Regions from separate parts of the Homo sapiens genome. Here all the other regions are linked to region 1. Evidence: fine-mapped expression QTL. A gene starts in region 1. Each other region holds a variant in brackets. All regions are shown on one strand. Distances are between the middles of the regions. Region 1 holds the start of BHLHE40 (basic helix-loop-helix family member e40). Region 2 has its middle 55 kb from the start of BHLHE40-AS1. Region 3 holds the start of LOC124906210 (a long non-coding RNA gene).

Evidence for each region. PIP is the estimated chance that this variant, and not a neighbour inherited with it, causes the effect.
Region 2: its variant is fine-mapped to the expression of BHLHE40 in whole blood (TOPMed, PIP 0.91).
Region 3: its variant is fine-mapped to the expression of BHLHE40 in fibroblasts (GTEx, PIP 0.90).

The regions. Positions count from the first base shown.
Region 1 is chr3:4,973,904-4,982,241 of GRCh38, reverse strand. BHLHE40 (basic helix-loop-helix family member e40) reads right to left here and starts at 2,805. Exons shown (of 5, transcript NM_003670.3): 1 at 2,444-2,805; 2 at 2,211-2,280; 3 at 1,834-1,941; 4 at 727-850. The coding sequence starts at 2,523. It overlaps BHLHE40-AS1 (BHLHE40 antisense RNA 1), which reads left to right and starts at 2,281. Exons shown (of 3, transcript NR_125916.1): 1 at 2,281-2,447. RefSeq lists enhancers at 1,822-2,416, 2,524-2,673, 3,974-4,093, 4,224-4,273, 4,394-4,583 and 1 more and silencers at 2,824-2,883, 3,094-3,863.
Region 2 is chr3:5,030,822-5,039,159 of GRCh38, reverse strand. No RefSeq gene overlaps it. Among named protein-coding and RNA genes, the nearest start is that of BHLHE40-AS1, 55 kb to the right of the region's middle. RefSeq lists an enhancer at 7,011-7,512. The variant C/G (reference allele first, on the strand shown) is at 3,887.
Region 3 is chr3:4,702,608-4,710,945 of GRCh38, reverse strand. ITPR1 (inositol 1,4,5-trisphosphate receptor type 1) reads right to left here. Exons shown (of 62, transcript NM_001378452.1): 36 at 7,996-8,116; 37 at 4,595-4,779; 38 at 473-621. It overlaps LOC124906210 (a long non-coding RNA gene), which reads left to right and starts at 594. Exons shown (of 3, transcript XR_007095797.1): 1 at 594-677; 2 at 3,494-3,717; 3 at 5,257-5,722. The variant G/A (reference allele first, on the strand shown) is at 3,385.

The sequences.
Region 1 (8,338 bases):
TGAATGAGGAAACAGGCAGAAGCACTAGCTGGGTTTTTGCAATTTTCATCATACGAGCCTTCGAGAGGAAGGCAGACAAGCATGAAATGAGGGAGTGGGTAGAATAATTCTCCCCAGTCTGTACAGTATTATTTGGAAGAAGTGAGACTAGAAGGTTAGAAGGTTGACTCCGATTATCTGGAAGTCAGTAGAAACGAATGATGAAACTTCAGTGGTTTCGCTAGATTGTGCAATTCACCAAGATACCTAGTGGCTATTCAGGGAACCACATGAAATGCAGGAAAAACTCCTGCTGTATCCTGCCAGGATCACACCACACACCAAGTGACAAGGAAGCAAAGAAACAGGAAAACGCTGGGGCATACCCATGATTTCTTCTCCAATGAAAGAGGGCTAAGAAGACCAACTGTAAAACACCCACAATGCAAATTATAGGTGCCTTGGCATTTTAAAAGGGAGTAGGGAAATCTCCCAGAACCCAGAGACTCTCAAGCTAAAATGCCACAGGAATATCTTATCATTTCACTAATACGTATTCATGCCAGGTGGCACAATGCATTTCAAATGAAAAGTCTGACCTTTTAGGAAAGATAAAACTGCATCTCCCCCAATGAACGTGCATAAGCAATTTGTTGCAGTAATGTTTATTACATCAGATGTTGAGCCCACGGGCTCTCTATTTGCACTCAAACTCTTAAAGAGAGCATAGCCAGAATCAGCACTCACCAGCTTGTAAACCACTCTGCAGGGCAATGATTTTCTGCTGCTGCTGATCAATTAGGTTTGTTAGTGCTTTCACATGCTTCAAGGTAAGTTCAAGAACCACTGCTTTTTCCAAGTGACCCAAAGTCTGGAAGGAAAAGAGCCTTAGTCAGCGGTGAGGTCAGAGAAGTCCCACCTTTGGGACATTTATTAGCAATGAGAAATGAGAAAAGAAAAAAAAAAGTGGAATAGTGTTTCCTGGTTGGCTGTTTTAAGTCTGTAGGTCATGCTTTTAAAAAGATAGACAGATACACTCATATATGTGTGTGTGTGTGTGTGTGTGTGTGTGTGTGTATATATATATAATATATATATATAATTAAATAATTTAAAAAAACGGGTGCCACCTGTCTTTGGAGGCATTTTGGAAGCTGCAACTACCTCAGGAAAATCCTTTGACAGATAAATTTCTCCAGCAGCCTCTGCCGACCTTAACTCAGGGGAATCCAGAGATAACATTTTCCTGCAGTGGTGTCAACTCAGAGAGGGACCTCTATTACGTCTGGCAGCCAAGAGGCTTTCCCTACTTCTTTCCTTACACCCTTTCAGAACTTCCAGCTCATCCAGGCTTTTTTGTTCCTCCCGAAATACTATTTTTTTTTTTTCCATTTCCCCAACCAAAGGCTGCGAAGTAGCCGAGGGCTACTGTCAAGAAAGGACAGGCCGTAAAAATCACACACCAAAGCAAGTCCCCTTATTTGACAACAACAACAAAAAAGGTGGGGGGAGTGGTAGAGGGGAAGGGGTAAATAAAATGTGTGTGTTTCTTGGCGTGTTCCTTTAAGTGAGAAAAACTAGGGAATCCTGAAAATCACCAGAAGTTAAACTCCTGAAAAGGAAGGCCAGTTGGTGTTGGAGCCAACTTGGAGAGGTCCAAGTGGTTCTCGCCTCATTTGCATGAGTCAGCCAGAAAACGCCAGGACTGTGGAGGAGGACCCCACCGCAGAGCCACCCGCCAGCTCTGATCCGCCAGTCTGGTCTGCAGTTCCCCGCGGAACCTGCAGGCGGCGAGTGACCCGCCCGCCCTCTGGGCAAAGGACTGGGTTGGAAAGGGGCCAGCTTCTCACTTACTGTAAGTTTGAGATGTTCGGGTAGGAGATCCTTCAGCTGGGCGATGCACTCGTTAATCCGGTCACGTCTCTTTTTCTCGATGAGCCGGTGCGGCAATTTGTAGGTCTCCTGCAAGACGCACGGGGAGGCGGTGGGCGCTTGGGGAAGGAGATGAGAAGCCTATCCTCCCAGCCCCGCAGCAACAGTCCGGCAGAGGAGCAGAGTAGCAGAGTAGCACCCAGAACCATCGTCTGCCCTTTCTTTTCCAAGTCACTCAGAAGAGGCACCGAGCCCACACCCTGCATCCCCTCGCCAACCTCAAAGCGAGAAAACTTTTCTTGGAAACTCAGCGCGCGCGAGGGGCTGAGCGCAGGGTCCCTAGGGGTGCACTTGCTTACCTTGCTGTCCTCGCTCCGCTTTATTCCCCGTCTTGACTTGTACACTTGGTACATGTGGGCAGGGTACATCCTGCAGGAAGAGAGACCAGGAAGGGTCGTGACTGCTTGCGCACGGCTGCAGGCGTTCTGCCGGGCAAGAACCTCCCGGTGCGCCCGGAGCTGCTCCAAGTTGAGAGTGGCGCATAACATGGGGCTGCAGTTGAGGCTTGAAGGGCCAAGGAGTGCCAACTTACCCTGGTAGGTCTCCGTGCTCCAGTCCCGGTGCTTTGGGCAGGCAGGCGGGGGGTGGTTGCGCGCTGGGGATCCGCTCCATGGCGCGGCGAGCCGGGGCCACTGCGCGCTCCTGTCTGCACTAGCGGAGCGTCTGGATGAGGACTGCCCTGGAGAGGGCTTCGGGGGTCTCTCCGCAGATGTTCCTCTGAGTCTGAGCTCTTTGAAATCCCCTGGGCTGCTGGAATCTTCGGCTTTGAGATGCAGCTTCAGTTGGGGGCGTGCATGGCCCGGTGTCCCCGCGGCCTCTGGCTCCGACTCAGCGCACAGACTGGCGGTGTGTGCTCCCTGCGCGGTCTGTCTGCGCCGTGCGAGCCAAGTGAATGAGAAGTGGGGCGGGCGGGGAGGCGGGAGGGAGCGGGTGAGGGGGGGGCGGTTAGGGCGGAGTGGGGGGGTGGGGGGGCAAGCCGAGGAGTAATGGAGAGGCTGCGGGCTGGGTTAAATGGGAGCGAGTGGGTGGGTTGGAGCTACGTGTTCTACCCTGTGACTCCAGGCACGTCTGGCCACTGCCGGGGAGGGAAGGAGCGACCTGCCCGCCCTCCCCCGGCTTCATCACATGAGTCTCACGTGTTGGACAACGCTCCGGCGGCTGCTAGGGAGCCCCCACCCCCAGCCCCGGCCCCCAGGTGTCTGCGGCTGCGGCCGCCTTTCCCCGAAGAGGGGGTGGCAGCACGACCTGGGTCCTGCCCAGTTGGGTGGGGGGCGCGGAAGCTGGAAGGGACGGGGGTGCTGGGGGAGGGGGAGAAGTTGGTAACGTGGGCGAACCTGCCCCAGGGAAATGAAGTAAGTTCCCGTCTCCTGGGAGGGAACGGGGGAGGACGGATCCGCCCGCGTCTGACTCAAGCCGGGAGAGGAATATCCCCTTGCTAGCTCCAGCCCAGCCCTCTTCCTCCTCCCCCGCCCGGCCCGCTTGGAGGAACCGGCGCGCTGCGGAGGGAGTCGCCCGGCCCCCCAGCCTTCCCCAGAGGCTGGGGTTTCTTTCCGTCCTGGCTTCCCTGCCCCCACTGCTCACCCTCGCGTCCAGGAATTGCCCGCCTTGGGGAGGGACCGAGGGGCGGGGCGGATGTCACCCCATGGGAAGCGGGCCGACGGCCAAGCGCAGGGGCAGCTGAGGCTGCCGCCGAGCACGCCGCGCGCACCTGACCGTGGAGGGTGTGAGCCGAGGGCCCCTCGCTCCCAGGAGCTCCGCTCCTGGGCACAACCTGCGGGCGGGCGGGCACCCGGTTGCGCAGCCCCCTGGGTGCCCCAGTGTCACCCCCTTCCTCCCGGCCAGTCAAGCGCAGAAAGATACCGGGCGCTGTGCCCGGCGCTCCCTCCCTCCTCTGCCCCCTCCGGAGCAGAGGCGCCCCGGTCGCCTCCCCTCCGGCTGCAGCGTTACACAACCGCGGCGGCGGCGCCTGCCCTGCAGCAGCGCAGGGCGTGACGCTTCACGTGGCCGGGCTCAGGTCGTAGCACCGCGGACCGCGAGCCTCTCTGCGTTGACCCAGGGACTGAGACCCCGGGGACGTGGCGTGCCAGCCCGGATCGGCCCTCTCCCTGCCTGTTGGGAAGTTCGGCGGCGCTGTTCGCGGTCTGCACCCAGGGCAGGAGGGATGAGAGAGACAAGAAAAAAAAACCGCCTGTTACAGGGAAATCTTAGCAATCATGCGGTCGACACGTATTTCTTGAGCCCCCTGCTCTGCACTAGGCGCTGCACTAGTTGATGAATCCGACACGGATCCTGCCCTTGAACTTGCAGAACCTCTAGGAAGAGGTTAAATTGAGCAATAAAGGAAAGGCAGCCCTGGGAAAATTGTATCGAGGCCACTGGCTGACAGAGGGGAAAAACAATGAGAACTTGTGTTGCTTTGTGTTTTGTTTTTAATTTCATTGTAACCGAGATGCCTAGGTAGAGAAGCGGGGGAGAAGCTAACCCAAAGCCCCAAGCCCGGGGCGGAAGGACCTCCTCCAGCGGCCCCAGATCTCTGCAATCTCACTTAGGCTGCCGGAGGGCCCCACCCACCTCCCCCGGAAAGGTCCGGGCTCTGTGACCTTCTCACTCAGCCGGGAGCAGGGAAAACAGCTGAAACTCCAATCCCGCGGTGTGAGCAGCGCTGATACAGTCAGAGGAGGGAGCCAGTGGAAACTCATGACTAAAATAAGGCCTGGCTGGGGATTTCACTGACCTCTGCGCTCCCCTGCCCTGCAAGTTCGGGGAGTTGAGAGATGACTGTAAGCCCTTCCCACTGCGCTTCGGGTCAGTCACCCCACTGCTGAGTGACCTGGCTGTGGGAAGGATTGAAAAAAAAATGGGGTCACTGCCGAGACTGGGCGAAGAGTAGTAGCCTCGGGTGCAGTTAGGGGATCAGTCTTAACTGGCAGTGCCCTTGACGACCTAGAGAACTGGCATTCACAAGTTGACCAAACTGGCAGTGTATTTCCTTCAGGTCGCCTTGGAGAGCTCCCGCTTCCTGTTTATATTTCACAAGCGTCAAACTCTTTAGCAAGTGTGAGAAATGCCTCCTTTTCTAACTGCTAACTGGCATGACCTCACTTCGGGGCTCAGAGATCCCTCCCTGCCAGAATGTACTTTTGCTGGCCAAAGGCGGGGACCGGGGTCCGCCCTGGAAACGCGCTTTCAATCTTGGGCGACCTGCTTCATTGTGTGATTTTAATAAGGATGAAGGGCTGTCACGGCTGCGTCAAAACCACGGTTCCAGCAGGAAATAAGCACTGGGAGAGGACAGGACACGTACCCCCTTCCGCCGACACCCCCCACCCGATGGCAGGAGGGAGCCCAAACCTTGCAGCTTCCATGGCTCATGGCTCATGACAATATCATTCTTAAAATTCTTTGAGTTTATCAATACGTTTTGCCCTTACCTGCCCTACAACTGTAAATAACAAAATGTATGCATTTCCTACTTTTTATTTGTTCCGAATGTATTCTCAAGCTTCAAGAACGGTTCCCATCCTACCAGACTTCCACCGTATCAGGATTAAAAAACAAAACAAAACTCTGTTATTCTCTCCATAGCTTATGGCTTTTAAAAAATAATAATTTGAACAAACAATTCCTACGTGGCATAGATCTTTCCATCCTGGAGAATGTTACTATTTCAGTCTGTCATCTTTTGTAGATATTAAAAACCTTTCGTATGTCAATTTCTTTGCTCCTCACCACCACCTTTTAGGCAGGTACTAGTATTAGCTCGATGCATTTGACACGTGTTTATTGTTATTCAATGCCAGACACTGAAATAGGCCCTAGGGATGTATAACATATTCTGTTTGGAAAATTGAGGCTCAAGGAGGCTAAATAACCTGCCCCAGGTTATATAGTCTGGGATTCAGTCTGAGACAGGCCCCCAGGTTTGTTGGACTCCAAAGCTTGTGCTCTTAATCACTATACTTACGGTTGCCTGGTAGGGTTGTTTGGGTTGTGCACCGCTCAACTCCAGGGGGAGCTATTCACATTGCAGTCTGTGTGAGAGCACCCTCTGGAGTTGTGCAATGTGGCACTGAGCAGCTGCACTGGGTAATCCTGCCATTTTGTAGCCGTCCCTGCTGTTTTGTCTCTTCTAAGTGGGGAGAGAACATAATTTCGTACAAGAGAAAGATGGGATCTTTCTCTTCTTTCCTATTGGGACTCAGCATCTTGGTGGCCTTACACTGTGTGCTGAATGAGTCTATACTGTTACTATCTATAGTAACTCCCGGGCCCTTCCTGTGCAAGAATTTAGAGCCCCAAGCTCCCCTATACATCCCCACAACTTGCTTGCTCAGATATCACTTTTTACCTGCTTATGAAGCCTCAAAAATTTTTATCTCAGCTCACGGTAAGAAATACATTTTACATCATGTCTCAATACACACACGTATGTCTTTACACACATCTTAAGTATATTTAAGCATAGGGCAGCCAAAGCTTGGTTGGGCTATAGCAATAAGTGACCGCTACCCTCTCTCCTATACTCCTGAGTAACCATTGCTCTCTTAAAAAAGAAAAAAGAAAAAATTGAGCCACTTAGAAAGAAGTCAATCAGGCCGAGTGTGGTGGCTCATGCCTGTAATCCCAGCACTTTGGGAGGCCAAGGCGGGCGGATCGTCTGAGGTCAGGAGTTCGAGACCAGTCTGGCCAACATGGTAAAACCCCAGCTTTACTAAAAATACCAAAAATCAGCCGGACATAGTGACGGGCACCTGTTATCCCAGCTACTTAGGAGGCTGAGATAGGAGAACTGCTTGAACCCAAGAGGCAGAGGTTGTAGTGAGTGAGCCGAGATCACACCATTGCACTCCACCTTGGGCAACAAGAGCAAAACTCCGTCTCAGGAAAAAAAAAAAAAAAAAAAAAGTCAATCCAATGCATTTCAGACAAAAATTTCACAGAACAATATTTCACTGTTATTATATACATTCTGATACTTTCCAGTTTAGTCTCATCTGTTTTATTAAAAGTATTCAGGTCATGACTTACTAAGTTGATCTCACCACTCACCAATGGATCATGACCTGAAATTTAAAAACTTGCCTGTGGGGCACAGTGGCTCACGCCTGTAATCCTAGCACTTTGGGAGGCCAAATCAGGTGGATCATGAGGTCAGGAGTTCAAGACCAGCCTAGCAAATATGGTAAAACCCCATCTCTACTAAGAAAATTAAAAAATTAGCTGGGCATGGTGGTGCACGCCTGTAGTCCCAGCTACTTGGAAGGCTGAGGCAGGAGAATCGCTTGAACCAAGGAGGCAGAGGTTGCATTGAGCCGAGATCATGCCACTGTACTCCAGCCTGGGCGACAGGGTGAGACTCCGTCTCAAAATAAATAAAAAATAAAAACTTGCCTTACTCTAGAGATAGTGTTGTATTTTTGGCTTGGCCCCACCAGAAAGAGATCAGTGGCATCTGCACACTTGAAGATCTTCCAAATAACTTATAAAAATGTTAAATAAAATTGCTGATTCTGGTTGGACTCAATGGTATAGAGGTCTCCATTCAGGAAAACATCTGTTAATTCCTACCTTTGTTCCCTATTTATAATCAACCTTCTCATTTTCTGCTCTTTTAAAAAATAACGGCATTTAATTCTTTAATTGAGAGGTAAACATAAAATGCAGATCTTAAATGTTTGGTGTATTATTTTTGGTAAATGTACACCTATGTAGCCACTGCCCCACACAAGATACAGAACACTTTTATCACCCCAGAAAGTTTCTTTATATATCATTTTCCAATCAATCCCCCAACCCCCACAATTACTTTCTGATTTCTATCACTATAGATTAACTTTGTCCATTATTGAGATTCGTATAAATGAATGTACTCTTCAAAGTTTCTGTCAATATAGTTTTGAGATCCTACCATATTAGCACATGTATTAGAATTTTGTTCTTTTTTATTGCTGAGTGTATTTCATCATACACATATAGCACAGTTTATCTAGTTCCCTGTTAATGGATATTCAGGTTGTTTCCAGTTTGGGGCTGTTATGAATGAAGCTGCTATCAACATTCATGTTCAAGTTCTTTTGTGAACGTATGTTCTCATTTATGTTGGATAAATATTAGGAGTGGAATTCTTGGGTCACAGATTAAATATATGTGAACTTTATTATAAATTGCCAAACAGATCTCCAAAGAGGTGTTACCATTTTACAATACCACCAACAATGTATGAGAATTCCAGCTGCTCCACAACCTTACTAACGTTTAGGGTAGACAGATTTTTAAATTTTAGCCATTCTAATGGGTATGAAATAATATTTTATTGTCATTTTAATTTGCATTACCCTGATAATGAAGTTGAGCACTCTTTCATATGCTTATTGGCCATTGGTATATCTTATTTTCTGAAGTATTTGTCCACATCTTTTGCTTAGTT
Region 2 (8,338 bases), 57 kb before region 1:
TTTCACCATGTCAGCTAGGCTGGTCTCAAACGCCTGACGTCAAGTGATCTGCCCGCCTTGGCCTCCCAAAGTGCTGGGATTACAGGCATGAGCCACCACACCCAGCCTGTTTGTTTGTTTTTTTGTTTAGAAACAGGGTCTTACTCTGTCATCCAGGCCGGAGTGCAGTGTGGTATGATCATATCTCACTGTAACCTCAAACTCCTAGGCTCAAGCAACCTTCCTGCCTCAGCCTCACAAGTGGCTAGGTCTACAGGCAGGCACCACCATGCTGGGCCAACTTAAAATATGTATTTTTTGTAGAGACAGGGTCAGGGGAGAGGCATTTTCACTGTGCTGCCTAGGCTGGCCTCAAGCTCCTGGCCTCCATCCATCCTCCAGCCTCATCCTCCCAAGTAGCTGGGACTATAGGAAAAGGCCACCACTCCCAGCTCCCCTATTCCATTTTTCGTTTGTTTGTTTAAACTTGACCCACTTCTCCATCTTCTAAATTGCCAGAGGTAACTGAGAGCTCAAAATGTGGGCCCAGATGGATGACCTGAGCCAAATCCCTTTCCCACAACTGGGGCTGCTGGCTGCCATGTGCCCCAGAGGCCAACTCAGAGAGAAGTGAGAAAAGCAGAGCCAAGAGCCAGACAAAGAAAGAGAGTCTGGGCAGCCCTGGGTTGCTGGTTCTAGTCCTGGAGGCCATGGCTGCTGCACTCTGTTTTCCAGTTCTGCGAACTACCACAACAGCCCTGCAGGCTTCTCAAGTTACTTAAATCCACTTCTTGCTTTAGCCACATTGAGAGGAGTTTTGACACTTGCAACCAAAAAGAGTTCTGACAAATACACAAGGTCACAGGCAATTCTGAATCATCGACTTGGAGCCCCAAAGTTCCAAGAGGCCTCAAAAAGTCATCCAGGCCAGGGGCTTAAAAAAAAAAAAAAAAAAAAAAAAAAAAAAAAAAAAAAAACACCACAACCTCTTATTTTAAATAGCTAAATCTTCAAATCTTCAGGAGCCCAAATATATAAAACAGACAAAAGAGGAAGTGCTGTGGTAGCTGTAAGAGTGTGGAGACCCCGAGCCCTGCCCACCACCTCCTCTGTATCCAGCTGAAAGCTACTCGTCTGGTCCAACTTCCTACATCAGGAATCACTTTGACCACATTTTTGACACCTGGTCACCTAGCCTCAGCTTGAACACATCCACACAGGCAGCTGAGTAAGCCTTGAGGCAGTCCCCTTCTTTTTTTTGACTTCTCTGATTGCAAGACAGTTGTTCCTCTGCCTCCTAGAGGCATTCGCCCATGGGTCTTAGTCCTCTGGGTTGAAACAGTGTGAATTAAAGCACCTTTCCTATGGCAGCCCTTCCTGATGACAATGATCATGTCCCACTTAGCTCCCAGCTTACACATCCTCACTTCCTTCTGACTGTTGCTCATGGGACATCACGTCCAGCTGGTGAGCTGCCTAAAATAGGCAGGCTGCTGTTCAAGGTGTGATTTCAGGAGGACCATAAAGACAGAAGGCTTAGAGTTAGAGAACATGCTTATTTTAAACATACACACACACACACACAACACACACATGCACACGCACACGTTACATGCACACATGCAACGCTCAGAGGTTGACGGTAACCCCTTTACTTCCTATGTGCAGCATTTCCCCTGTGCCAGGCACTATGCTCAGGACTGTCCACTCCACTTGTGCTTCAGCCTTCACGACATACCCATGATGTGAGGCGTCATGTTTATCCCCATTTAAAATATGATCCCTTGAGGAGTTCAAGTAACTGGTTCAGGTACAAGTACTAACATGCGGTGGGAGTGGGATTTGAACCCAGGACTCACCTGACTCTAAAGCTGGGGTGGCTGGGTATATTTCTATGCGACTCCATGGCTCTCTTTGCTACTGACCACCTAGCCCAGAAGGATGATAAAGTGGAGCCCAGGAAGGATATGATCAATGCAGTTAATTTTTATATCACTGTGGTCAAGACACAAGGCGGGCACCTCCTTTGTATGTGAGCCTTGGAAACGCTTCTTTTTAAACATAACACAGTCATTGCGTGTTAGAGATGATTTAATCTGTTAGTTGAGTGAGCAATCGAGGAAGACGTGGGTCTTTGGGGTTCAAATGAGGAGGCATGACTGCCTGGTAATCAAATTGATTGCAGTGAGCTAGCTTCCCTTTTCTCTTGTCTGTAGAGACTCTCTAATCTCTTTTTCCACCCAACCCCCACTTCTGGATGCCATTGTTCCCTAGAAGGAGAATCTGGGGACCAAAAGGGTGAAGGAACCAGCCATGGCCACCTTGGAGCCCATGATGTTATCAGAAGGGAACTTGGCCCCGGCTCTCTCCCTCCTACACTCAGGGGCACATCCATGTTCCACGACTGTGTCTGATGTTTTCTTAAAATGCTCCAGGTGTGAATTGTAATAGTAGTAATAGCAATCATATTCTTGATAACTTTTATTGAGCAATTGCTATACACAGGCATATACATCATCTCACACAACCTGCCTCCCTTGTGACTATTACTGTTAGCCCATTTTACAGACATGGCCATTAAGCTCAAGGGAAACTGGGTAACATATCGAGGTTTCTTGCCCAAACTCACCCACTTATAAACAGCATGACTGATATTTCAACTTTGGCAGTTTGACCTAGATCCCAGCTATCTTGATATATTAAGGAACAAAACAGGTTTCAAAACAGTGCAGGATACTACAGCAACGAAAAGGAACAAACCTTTGACATGTGCAGTGACACAGATGACTCTCGCCGTAGTTATGTGAGGGAAAGAAGCTACGTTTTAAAAGTGTACAGATTATATGATTTCATATACATGATACATTCGATTTACAAAATTCTAGAAAACGCAACAGAAAACAGAAGGATGGTTGCCAGGGGACTGAGAGGGCCAGGAGTGAGGTGTCACAAAAGCATGAGTAAACTTTTTTTTTTTTTTGAGACCAAGTCTCACTCTCAACCAAGCTGGAGTGCAGTGGAGCTATTAAGGCTCACTGCAGCCTCGACCTCCTGGGCTCAGGCAATCCTCCCACCTCAGCCTCCTGAGTAGCTGGGACTACAGGTGTGCACCACGACGCCTGCCTAATTTTTGTATTTTTTGTAGAGGCAGGGTCTCGCTATATTGCCCAGGCTGGTCTCGAACTCCTGGGCTAAAGCAATTCTCACCTCAGCCTCCCAATGTACTGAGATTACAGGCATGAGCCACTGTGCCCAACCCAGCATGAGTAAATTTTGAGGTTGATGGAGTTCTCTGTTCTTTGATTGTGGTGATGGTTTCCCAGGTGCATGCAAATGTCAAAACTCATCAAATTGTAGACTTTCAATGCACGTCATCTGTTGTATGTCAATTTTATCTCAATAAGGATTAAGAAACAGTATTATGCATGATTCAGCACACCAACATGGCACATGTATACATATGTAACAAACCTGCGCGTTGTGCATAGGTACCCTAGAACTTAAAGTATAAAAAAAAAGAAAAGAAACAGTATTATGCGTGATTATGGTTTAGGTTTTTTTAAATTATTTTTAATTTTTTTTAGTGGGGCTCAAACTGGTTTCGTTTCTAAGGAAAAATTACATAGATACACATGTATACATACATTTATACATATTATAGGTAATACATACACATATAAAATTACATATGATAAATATTAATGCATAACTAAAATATATAAATTATATATAAAATATATGTTATATATTTATATATGACAACATGACTCACAAGGCCACTGTGCAGTCTAGTCCCAGACCCCCTCCCCAGTGTCATTTCTCACCACTGCCCACCCCACCCTCCAAAGTGGACCACAGGGTATTACTTTCATTTCCTCCATCGCCTCATGCATGCTCTGCTTCCTGG[C/G]CTTCTCATTGCTATTTATTTCATCTGCCTGGAACACTCTCCCACCCTTCCTTGATTCTTTAGGCCTCAGCTAAGGTGTCCTTTCCTCCTTGAACCCAAAGTACCTCCCCTTTGGCACCCAGTATTGTAATTGTTTAATACCTTTTTTCTATTGTTACCCTGTATGTTCCATGAGGGCAAGAGACCCTGTGTCTTTTGCTCATGGAGGTGTTCCAAATACATAGCACATAATAGGTATTTACTAGAGAGATTTCAAATGAAAGACCAAAATGATGGGTTTTTTTTGTTTTTGTTTTTGTTTTTGTTTTTCAAGACCAAGTCTTGCTCTGTCACATAGGGTAGAGTGCAATGGTGAAATCTCAGCTCACTGCAACCTCCACATCCCGGGTTCAAGTGATCCTCCCCTCCTCAGCCTCCCAAGTAGCTTGCATTACAGGCGACTACCACCATGCCCGGCTAATTTTTTTTTTTTTTTTTGAGATGGAGTCTCACTCTGTTGTCCAGGCTAGAGTGCAATGGCACGTTCTCAGCTCACTGCAACCTCTGTGCCTCCTGGGTTCAAGCGATTCTCCTGCCTCAGCCTCCCAAGTAGCTGGGATTACAGGCGCATACCACCACACTGGCTAATTTTTGTATTTTTAGTAGAGATGGGGTTTCCCCATGTTGGCCAGGCTGATCTCGAACTCCTGACCTTGTGATCCACCCGCCTCGGCCTCCCAAAGTGCTGGGATTACAGGTGTGAGCCACCGCACCCGGCATTTTTTTGTATTTTTTTTAGTAGAGATGGGGTTTCCCCATGTTGGCCAGGCTGGTTTTGAACTCCTGACCTCTGCTGATCCACCCGCCTCAGCTTCCCAAAGTGTTAGGATTATAGGCGTGAGCCACTGCACCCAGCCCAAAATGATATTTTAAAATCTTAGTGAAGAACCACTACCACCACTACCAGTATATACTAACATATTATATATATACATATATATATATTTTTTTTTTTTTTTTTTGAGACGGGGTCCCACTTTTTCACCCAGGCTGGTGTTCAGGGGCATGATCCACGGCTCACTGCCACCTTGACCTCCTGGGCTGAAGAAATCCTCCCACCTCAGCCTCCAGAGTGGGACTACAGTGCATGCCACCATGTCTGGTTAACTTATTTTTATTTTTTTGTAGAGATGGGGGTCTCACCATATTGCTCAGGCTGGTTTTGAACTCCTAGGCTCAAGTGATCCTCCTGCCTCAGCCTCCCAAAGTGTTGGGATTATGGTCATGAGCCACCGTACCCATAATATATATGTGTGTTTGTGTCCGTGTGTGTGTGTGTGTGTGTGTATGAGATAGGATCTTGCTCTGTCACCCAGGCTGGAGTGTGGTGGTGTGATCACAGCTCACTGCAGCCTCGACCTCCTAGGCTTAATTGATCCTCCCACCTCAGCCTCTCTAGTAATTGCGAGCACAGGTTCGCACCACCACATTCAGCTAATTTTTGTATTTTTTTTTTTTTTTTTTTTGACATGGAGTCTGGCTCTGTCGCCCAGGCTGGAGTGCAGTGGCGTGATCTCGGCTCACTGCAAGCTCCGCCTCCCGGGTTCACACCATTCTCCTGCCTCAGCCTCCTGAGTAGCTGGGACTACCAGTAGATGGGACTACAGGCACCTGCCAACACGCCCGGCTAATTTTTTTGTATTTTTAGTAGAGACAGGCTTTCACCACGTTAGCCAGGATGGTCTCGATCTCCTGACCGCGTGATCCGCCTGCCTCGGCCTCCCAAAGTGCTGGGATTACAGGCATAAGCCACCGCACCCGGCCAATTTTTGTATTTTTTGTAAAGATGGGGTTTTGCTATGTCGCCCAGGCTGGAATTGAACTCCTAGGCTCAAGATCCTCCTACCTCAGCCTCTCAAAGTGTTGGAATTACAGGTGTGAGCCACTGCATCCAGCCATATTATATATTCTTCAAGATGCAGGCTAGCATAATGTTAAGAATGATTATTAAAATAACATGACACAAAGTGGTTAAGAATAAAAGAGTCATTCATGGCTGGTTCTACCAGTTGCTAGCCAAGTAACCATGGGCAAGTTACTTTATCTCTCTGAATCTCCGTTTTCTTCCGTGTGTAATCAGGACAGCAATATTCCGTCAAGGTTGTAACGTTTCAGTCAGATAACACACAGTAAGTGCTTCGTATGGAGTGCCGGCTGTAGGTTATTATTATACTGGTGCTGTCATTCAGATCAATTGAATATGAACTGTTAACTGATACCTCCCATTTATCTGGAGCTCTCCATTTTACAAAGCATTTCTCATTTAATACCCCAATTATGCCTCACAGGAACCCTGGAGGGAAGGTGACACAGATGTCATTATTACCCATTTTAAAAGGAAGCTGGGGCCCAGGGATGCTAAATGACTTCACTCAAATGGTAGATAAGGTGAACAGTGGCACCAGGAGCTGACCCTGAGTAAGGTAACGGCTCAGGGCCCTTTACCAAGGGTGGAGTCTTGCCTACTCTTTGAAACACAGAAATGACTGAAGGCCCCTACTTACCTCCTCAGCGAAGTCCCTCAGCTGGAAGTTCCTGGGATTTGGTGTTCTTTCAGTCACCAGGCCTGTCCTGTTCCCACCATTTTATCTCAACTGCATCTCATCTCAGGCAGCTGATAACTTTTTTCTTTAATTTTTAATTTTTATTTATTTATTTAGAGACAGGGTCTCACTCTGTCATGCACGCTGGCATGCACTAGCATGATCACAACTCACTGAAGCCTCAACCTCCTGGGCTCAAGTGATCCTCTCACCTCAGCCTCCTGAGGATTTAAAACTATAGGCATGAGCCACCACACCCAGATAATTTTTTTTTTTTAGTTTTTTTAGAGACAGGGTCTCGCTATGCTTGTCCAAGCTGGTGTCAAACTCCTGGGCTAAGGTGATCCTCCTGCCTCAGCCTCCCAAAGTGTCAGGATTACAGGCATGAGCCACCTCACTGAAGTTGGTAACTTCTGTCTGCTCAGCTCTAACATGGAAATGGTGCAACACAGTTCCTTCCCTTCAGTCTCCACCCCTAAACCCCCAAATCTCTTTCACCTAACACAGGCCCAACTCCTAACCCTGCCTTCCCCACGCACACACACAATTTTTTTTTTTTGAGACAGTTTCAATTTTGTTGCCCAGGCTGGAGTGCAATGGCATGATCTTGGCTCACTGCCACCCCCGCCTCCAGCGTTCAAGCGATTCTCCTGCCTCAGCCTCCCAAGTAGCTGGGATTACAGGCATGCTCCGCCACGCCCAGCTAATTTTTTATATTTGGTAGAGACGGGGTTTCACCATGTTGATCAGGCTGGTCTCAAACTCCTGACCTCAGGTGATCCACCCACCTGGGCCTCCCAAAGTGCTGGGATTACAGGCATGAACCATCGCACCTGGCCCCCACACACAATTTTTAACTAGGAATGATCTACTAGCCCCTTTCTTCTTCAGGCCCCAGCCTCCTTCCAAGTTCCTTGACTCTCCTTTCTCTCCCTCACATTTTTCTGCTCCTCTATTTCTCTAGATTCATCTCACTTTGGGCTGCTCCTTTTGCACAAAAATACTCAAATCTCTCTTTTGATTAGACAAAGCATTTTACTTTCCTACACCCTCCTCAGGAATGACATGCCTTGGAGAACGTCAGCGAGCAGTGCTTAGCTAAAGAAAGGCTCACCTAACTCTGTTCCCACCCTTTGATCTCAGAATTTGGGAGATTAGGCTTTGTTTGTCCCAGCACAAAGTGTGTGTGTGTGTGTGTGTGTGTGTGTGTGTGTGTGTGTGTGTGTGTGTGTCTAATTACCCCCTTCCTTCCTGCCTGCCTTCCCTCCCTCCCTCCCTCCCTCCCTCCCTCCCTCCTTCCTTCCTTTTTTTGATGGAGTATTGCTCTGTCGCCCAGGCTGGAGTGCATTGGCGAGATTTCTGCTCACTGCAACCTCCACCTTCCAGGTTCAAGCAATTCTCCTGCCTCAGCCTCCCAAGTAGCTGGGACTACAGGGATGCTCCACCACACCCGGCTAATTTTTTTTGTATTTTCAGTAAAGACGGGGTTTCACCATGTTGGCCAGGCTGGTCTCCTCAGGTGATCTGCCCACTGCAGTGTCCCAAAGTGCTGGGATTACAGGCGTGAGCCACCACACTTGGCCTCTTTTCTTTTCTTCCTTCCTTCCCTCCCTCCCTCTCTCTCTTTCTTTTCTCCCTTCCTTCCCTCCCTCTCTCTCTTTCTTTTCTCCCTTTCTCTCTCCTCCCTCCCTCCCTCCCTCCCTTCCTTCCTCCCTTCTTTCCTCCCTTCTTTCTTCTCTTTTTTTTTGAGACCTAGTCTCACTCTGTCGCCCAGGCTGGAGTGCAATGGCACGATCTCGGCTCACTGCAACCTCCATCTCCCAGGTTCAAGCAATACTCCTGCCTCAGCCTCCTGAATAGCTGGGATTAC
Region 3 (8,338 bases), 270 kb after region 1:
GCCACCGTGTCCGGCCTTGGGGCAAAAATCTAATGGAGATTTCTAACCATGGGTCTGCTTGTTGCTTACAGATTACGCACAAGGCATAAACTAAGAAATTACAAAATTATTAGGAAAAGATGGTGAGGTCACGATAGATCTGAGATTTCTGAGGGCTGAGGGATCATGGCTTTTTTATGTCTGTACCACAGCACACGGTGGGTGCACTGTAATGAATGAATGAATGGGCATGCAGTGAAAATAAGAACTTCTCACCAAAAAACAAAGCAAAACAAAACAAAACAAAAAAGTGTCAGTAAGCAGGATTTAATAGACAAACTTACTTTGGGGAGGTCAGAACAGGACTTTAGCACATGACCTTGCATTCATCAAAGTTAAAAAACAGGACAACGTCTCCTTCTTCGGGAACAAAAGCTTTGTGAGGTCATCAAGGTTCTGGCAAATGAACACCCCAGAGAGAGAGGCCGCTTACTTGCAAATGAAACCGCCACTTTCACATTTCCTTCTGGCGTCTGTGTTCTCTGGGAAAAGCAGCTCGGGTCTGTGGAGAACATCCACGAGCACAGATAACTCTGCCTGCACCAGGGGCCTGAGACGGTCCTCCAGCGCGGAGACGATGTCCTAAAACGGAAACACAGCCTCAGTCAACGGCTCAGGCAGACGCTGACCACAGGAGGGTGAGGACATTGATTTCTGCCCTAAAACACTGATGCACGGGTAGGCTAGGTTAGAGTAACTTTAGTACCGTCTGGCATCTCAAATTATTAGACATTGCCCAATGGTTACCTGAAACATTAGCCTCTGATGCAGAAAACAAAGTGAAAACAAGTCAACTTTCCCACCACCCCTTCTTTCAAGGTGGCCCTTATGCTACTCAAGGTACCACTGCATGTAGCTTAAAATATGACGCAAAAAATCAATTTAACAACATGGAAAGATGTCTATGACATGGGCATAACAAAGGTCAAACAATAATAATCCTATTTTTATAAACATCATCAATATCTAGCTAAAGGATAAACATCAAATATTAAAACATTACTACTGGTTTTCTCTGGGTGGTGGGATTACAGGTGATTCTGATTTTCTTCTATATAGAAATACTTGTCAGTGTTGTTTATTTTCAATGAGCATGAATTATTCACATAATAAAGTCATACAAACATGAGGACACCAATGAATGAACATGCTGTATCAACATGCTAAATACATGTACCCTGATAGCATGATGGTCTTCAAATGCAAAACACATAGCTGTAGGAAAGGAAAACAGAGAGAAGTTGAAAGAGCAGCAAAACCAACACAACAAACACCATTTGAAGGCAAATGATAGAAAACAGATGAGAAATTATCTTCAAAAGATGCTAAAGCCTGCTCCATGGTTTGGTGACTCAGAACCTGCCTACAGGCATGTTGGCTAAGACAGGGGCCAAACACAGCACGTTGGATAATACAGGAAGGCCTGGTTACCCAAGGACATTTGCATGGGAAAAGCTGCTTAAATTGGGACCCAGTTGGGATTGACAAAGAATTAACTAATCTTTCATCCAGAAACTAATGACATGAAGATAATTTAATCTTAGATTTAACACAATTTGGGTGATGAATGTAATCACTCAGTAAGGTTTAAGATGCATAAAGATACATGAATCAATCAAATAATTTTGAGTGGGGCAATTTTCCCAACAAGACTGTAAGACGGTACTTTGCAACATCCCTTAGTTCATACTGACTTTCACAGCACAGTCAAAAAAGGGTCATTTCTGCAAAATTCTGAGGCTCTTATCAGTTCCCCCCATAGCATCCCTTTTGGAAGCACCCAGTCAATATTCTCTTCAATAGTTATTGATCCTGACTCTGGCAAATCTTTGTCTACGGTATTTACACAGGATTAAAGTTGTTCTTATCATGTTCATGTATTTCATGAAATCCTGCATCTTTTGCACAGTTTGAACTTTACATTGCAATTGATTTGCATTGTACTGTCAAATGTATAGCATTCAGCAATCAAGGAGACATCAACAAAGATGGCAAAGCAATGGGCGGGGAAAGATGCTAGCATTAAGTGAGAAGGATGTCTAGATGGGGATTAATTATAGAAGTGGTCTGTTTGCGAGTGAATTTCTTATATTACAACTTTTGCTGCACTAGGCAATCTCATCAACCACAAAAACTCAGACAGTAAATAACTGGATAATGCAAATCCTTTACGTCACTGGCCAAGTCCTTAGAACAGTACTGCCCACCTACGCGTTTCATTTAACTTCCCAAGAATATGCATAATAAATCTAAGAAGAGCACAAGAAACCAGCATGTTTGATTGCAGATAGTTTGTTTCATTTGAGCAGGCGAGAAAATACTGTATGCTCATGGAGTGAGGAGTCTACAACATCCCTCCCGCCTTTCTAAAAGCATAGTGGGATCAGGAAGCACTCCATCAGGAATCAAGAACTGGTTCTCTTTGTTATTTAAGAACTGGTTGTGTTATGATAAAGGCTGAAATTCTTAACTTGACCCGAGAAATCCCGCCAGCCTCCCCAGCTTCCTGGCTCCAGCCACACTCAACTTCCTTTGCTCATAAGAGCAGGGTTTCATAGGTCAAGTTAAGATGCACGTTTAAGTGTTTAACACCCATCTAATACGACTCTCCCTTTTAACAAAGGGAGAGCAGATCTCTTGGTAGACGCTAAGAAAAAAAAGGAATAATCTAGCTGGAATTGAGTAATACTTTTATTTTCATCTTCTTTTCGGTATAACGGTCTTTACACATGCTGTTTCCCTCCCTTTTATTCTTTAAGTCCTGCTGTTCCTTCTCATCTTGGTTCAAAATGTTACTTTCCTCAGCAAGGTCTTCCTTGACCCTCATCCCTAACCTCAGACAAAATTAGTTTCCTCATCAGAATCTTTCAAGCGCTCCTCACTTCTCTGCACTTCTCACTTGTCCCTCTCACCATTTTATATTTAAAATTAATGTCTCTTTCTCCCTTCTGATACTTGAGATACTATGAGACAAAGATCATCATTTCTGGTTTTGCTGACCACTGTATCCCCAGAGCCTAGCATGGAGCTGATGAATGATTTAACGAATTCATCTGTCTTCAAGTAGGTTGTGTAACTGTACAGAGACTCAGTAACTATTACAATCATAGCAGTAAACAACAGTAATAATAGTAATAATAATAATAGCAGCCCTCAACTGAGTGCTCACTACATGCCAGGCACTGCTCTATGTGTTTTATGTGCACTCTATTTTCCTAAGATGGCTATACCACAATACATCCTGTCTTTCACATTCTTCTTACAATGTGACACTGACATCCCTTTCACTGAATGATGGTCTAGATTCCCTCCCCCTGAACTGGAGTGAACCTTTGAGACTGCCTT[G/A]ACCAAAAGAGTACAGTAAAAGTGACGCTATGTGACTTCTGAAACTAGGTCATAACAACAATAAAGTTTTCACTTGTCTCTCTCTACACACACTCATCTTGGGACACAGCCGCCATGATGTGAGGAAGCCCAGGCTATATGGAGATGTTTCAGTCGACAACTCCAGCTGAGGTCCCACCTGACAACCAGCATCAACTGCCAAATATGCGAGTGAGCAAGGTGTCAAGATGAGTCCAACCGCAGTCACTATCTGACTGCAACGCCATGAAAGACTCTAAGCAAGAAATAGCTAGCGGAGCCCAGTCAACCTCCAGAAGAGCAAAAGAGAATAAGGTAATTGTTGTGATTTACTGCACGAAATACAGGTAACTGGGACATATTATCAACTCTCTTAATCCTCACATCAACCCCACGAGGTAGGTGCTACTGTTTTACAGACTAGGAATCTGAAGGACCGAGAAGTCAAGTAACTTTCCCAAGATTACACCATTTCTAAGCGGCAGAGCCAGGATTTAAATTTAACCCAGGCACTGGCCTGAGACTACACTCTTAAACACTGCTTGTGGGCTCATTCAAAGGATCTGCGATTCTCAAACTGTGACCTATGTACTACCTGTGAGAGCATCAACTGAGGTGCTTGTATAAAAAATACGTTAATGTTAAGATGCATGTTTAAGTGCTTAACATCTAATACTCACTACTCTCCCCTTTAACAAAAGGAGAGCAGATGTCTTGGTAGATTCTACGAAAAAAGGTAAATAATCTAGCTGGAAGGAATACTTTTGTTTCCATCTGGCTCATTCTGATGTAAAATTCTTCTCTCAGGTATCACCACCCTTGTTCACCTGCTGATTCAAGAGGCTAAATAACCCCAGAGTGATGGGGAAAATGGAACATTTATGCTCTTACTCTAAACATCCTCTGTAATACTTCAATACTTCCTTCTAATAAGAGCAGAGTCCCAATTTTTCACCAAGAAATCTGCAAATCTAGGAGTAACCTTTAAAGACCATCACTTTTCAGGAACTTTTCTATTCCTAAGTAACTTCCCACTCCTGGCCCTACATATATAACATTTGACTATTCGTTCAGCACACCGACATCTTCCCACGGCCCAGCTTAGATGCTCTGTGGCTCAAGGATGCACTGCTGTGTGTGGCAATCACGTGAGGCCAGGCTAAGCATCACTTCTCTCAACACCAGGCATTACCTGCAATCTCTCAATGATATTCCGGTAGTCTCTGGAAGCTGCCAGAACAGAGTCCCTGCGTGCGGCATTGCGGGCTGAGAGCCGCCAGTTCATGGCTGTTTTCTGCACAATGCTGTGGGACTTGAGAAAGAGGTTGTTGACTTGGCTGTCCAGGTCCACGGGAATGGCAATGGCCCGGCTCTTGGCTGCACAGGAGAAAGATGAGTCGTGAGCCTACAACTTTTATGGGGGACACCCTACAGATGGACGTAATGCCCTAGTCCCCATCCAGCAGGTTTTTCACACCCAGAATGGGCCAGCTTGCCTGGTATTGAGCTTAAAGACTGAGAAGCTCAAGTCAACTTTACCATCTTTTAGGTCAGGGTTTCCCAGTGTGAATTCTGGGGGGAAGCAGTTCTTAGGAATGTTAAAATGCTCTCAGGTCATAAGGCCAGGGCATGTCAGAGTTAAAGTTCAATGGGTTTCCTCAATGAATGGCTTCTTAGGGTCACTGAGGTGTGTGTGTATTTTAAGAATAATCAAGACAGGGAACTCGTTTGGCCAATGAATCATTTGCTAGTTATTTTTCAGGTTTGTTCAACAATCTACAAAAATGCTGGGTTATCCCAAACATAATCCTAAAGGTAGCATTCACAATGGCATAAACTCCTCTTTCTGGATAGGTGCTTCTTTCTTCGTCTTAAAAAAGGAGAACTCCAGTCTAAGCATGAGACAAACATCAGTCAAACCCATAATGGGAGACACTCTACAGGACTCCTGACTAGTACTTGTCAAGACTGTCAAGGTCATAAGAAACAAGGAAAGGCTGAGAAATGGTCACAGACCAGAAGAGACTGGAGAGACATGACAACCAAATGCAAGGTGGTACCTGGACCAAATCCTGGAACAGAAAAAGGGCATGACAAGGGACAGCAGTGGGAAAAGTGGTGAAATTCGAATCGAGCCTGGAGTTGAGGTAATAGCACTGTACCAGTGTCAGTTTCCTAGCCTTGACAAAGGTGCCCTGCTAATGTAAGATGCTGACAACGGGTGACAATGGGTGAGGGATTTGTGGGAACTCTCTGTATTACCCTTGCTACAGTCCCATAAACCTGAAATTATTCCAAAATAAAAGATTTTGAAAAGGAAGATAATTAAGACTAATAATCACTCTTTTCCATATGGGAAAATGTCCAAAAAACAATGATTTCCTGTCTTCAATGCTTCAAAACACTAGAAGCAAAGAAAGTACTCAACTATCTAATTGTAAAAACAACTCCAACATCCTGAAAGAGGAATCTGAGAAGCAATTATTTAAATCCCATTTAAAAACATACACACACACACAATTTAGCGGAAAAAAAACTATAAGCCAGCCAACAACTTTCTAACAGTCTAATATAGAAAGTGGGAAATTTGGAAAAATACAAATAATTAACAATTGAAAAGCAGGATGCACAGGGTACACCCGTCACAGCTAGAAACTCTATGCCTTGGATATTCATAAGCTAAACAACTAACACAGTGGGTTCTGGGTGTGGTATTAGTCATGAGGAAGCGACCCCCAAGAGGCACAGAGGGGACTCTGGGTAGTGCTGTTTTCATGTCTTACCGTTCCACAGACATCAACTCTCCTTGTCTTTTGTCTTATCACCACCAAGACAAATGGAAAGACTTCCCCTCTCTAATGAGCACTGAGCTACTAGTCAAGTCAACCACTTGCTAAAATATTAAACAAAAACTAACCTCTGTGGCAAGGGCTTCCTCCTACGTTTCCTTTGGCCTCAACAAGCACAACTTTTTTTTTTCTTTTTTCCAACTTTTATCTTAGAATCAGGGGGTACCCGTGCAGGTTTGCTGCAGAAGTGTATTGCTTAATGCTGAGGTTTAGGGTATGATCGAACCCATCACCCAGATAGAGAACAGAGTACCCAACAGGTAGGGATTTTTTTGTTTTTTTGAGACAGAGTTGCGCTCCTGTCGCCCAGGCTGGAGTGCAGCGGCGTGATCTCGGCTCACCGCAACCTCCGCCTCCCAGGTTCAAGCGATTCTCCTGCCTCAGCCTCCTGAGTAGCTGGGATTACAGGCATGCGCCGCCATGCCAGGCTAATTTTGTATTTTTAGTAGAGATGGGGTTTCTCCATGTTGGTCAGGCTGGTCTTGAACTCCCAACCTCAGGTGATCTGCCCGTCTCAGCCTCCCAAAGTGCTGGGATTACAGGCATGAGCCACTGCGCCCGGCCTCCAACAGGTAGTTTTTCAACGCTTTTCCCCCTTTACCCCTCTAGTAGTCCCCCATCTTTACATCCACGTGGACCCAATATTTAGCTCCCACTTTAAGTGAGAACGTGTGGTATTTGGCTTTCTACTTCCACATTAGTTCACCAGGCACATTCTTTTTGATAGATAATCCTGTATGGAAAAAGTATAGGGTTATCTGGGAATTTCATTGCAGGGCCCTGTTTCTAAGATATAACACAATGAACCTGTCGTGTATATATTTTCCAAAACCTAATTTCTTACTGTGAAATACGGCCACACCAATAATAAAAAGACATCAACACCTACCATAGGAGAGTAAAGGAACTGGGCGAGAGACTACCGAAATCAGGCAACAGTCCTAATAGATTATACGTATCTCCCAAGGTATATCCAAACTGACTTGATATCTTACCTACACAATTGACAGTTGCTGGACAGCCACTAAATAATGCTGAGAACTACACCTGTCTTGCTCTTCTTGTTACTGTCTGCAAGGATCTAAGAGGCCACTCCAGGCAGGTAACTCTCTTCTCAACTTCAGGCAGGAAGCTTACCTCTTTGCACAACATTAATAGGGGGTGGGGAATGGGTCAAGTCATGGAGTCTGATAAAGTCAGGATGAAGGAAAAAGAAATTTTCCTAACTTCCTTTCAAAGGCTGCCTATGAGAGGCGGGACAGGAGGGGAGTCACAGAGGAAATGGAGAATCATTTCTACTCAAGGGGAAGAAGGGAGCAGTGCACCATTTCTGAGAAAGGGTGTTCCTTAGGATGTGACAGGTGCTTTCCAGGAAAAAGTTACCACATGGTCAAGTACATTTGCTGGATTAAACAAATTAGTTTCTTGAATGAGGGACTTCCCAGGGCCTTGAATAAGCTGTGTGTATCGTTACTTGCCAAAGAATTGCCTAACAACCATGGAAGCTTGTTTATCTAGGCCTATCTGACTTAGGACTCACTGGCTCTTCCCTTGGGAAATGCTGGCTTGGTAGATAAAAAAAGAAGCCCAGCAATCAAGAAGACCTTGGTTCCGGGTCTGGCTCTGAAACTTCCTGTCTGTGTAACTTTAGAAGAGTTGTAATGAGTGCTCAATAAATGGCAGCCTTACTACTGTCAGACAATTCATTTTCATCACGTATATCCAAACTGACTTGGTATCTTACCTACATCAGACAGCACCCGAATACAGCTCTCCACGGAGGCTTTTTGGCTTGGCATTAACCAGTTGCAGTGGTAAACCCTGAACACGCCTTGCAGCAGTTGCACAAAGACAGGCTGGCGAGTCTGCAAGAAGCCAAAAGAGGCAACGTGAAAAACAGATTTTTATTTGTAGACTACTGATGATCCGATCAGAGACAGAGACATTGTCTTGAACCACTGGACCCCAGATCAGAGACAGACACTGCCTTGTTAATGGACCCTGAGGCAAGGGTGAGAGGGGATGCCTGGATAAGAGCTAAATTCCATAAGTTACCTAGCCAAGGGAGAGCAACTCAGAAGCATTTT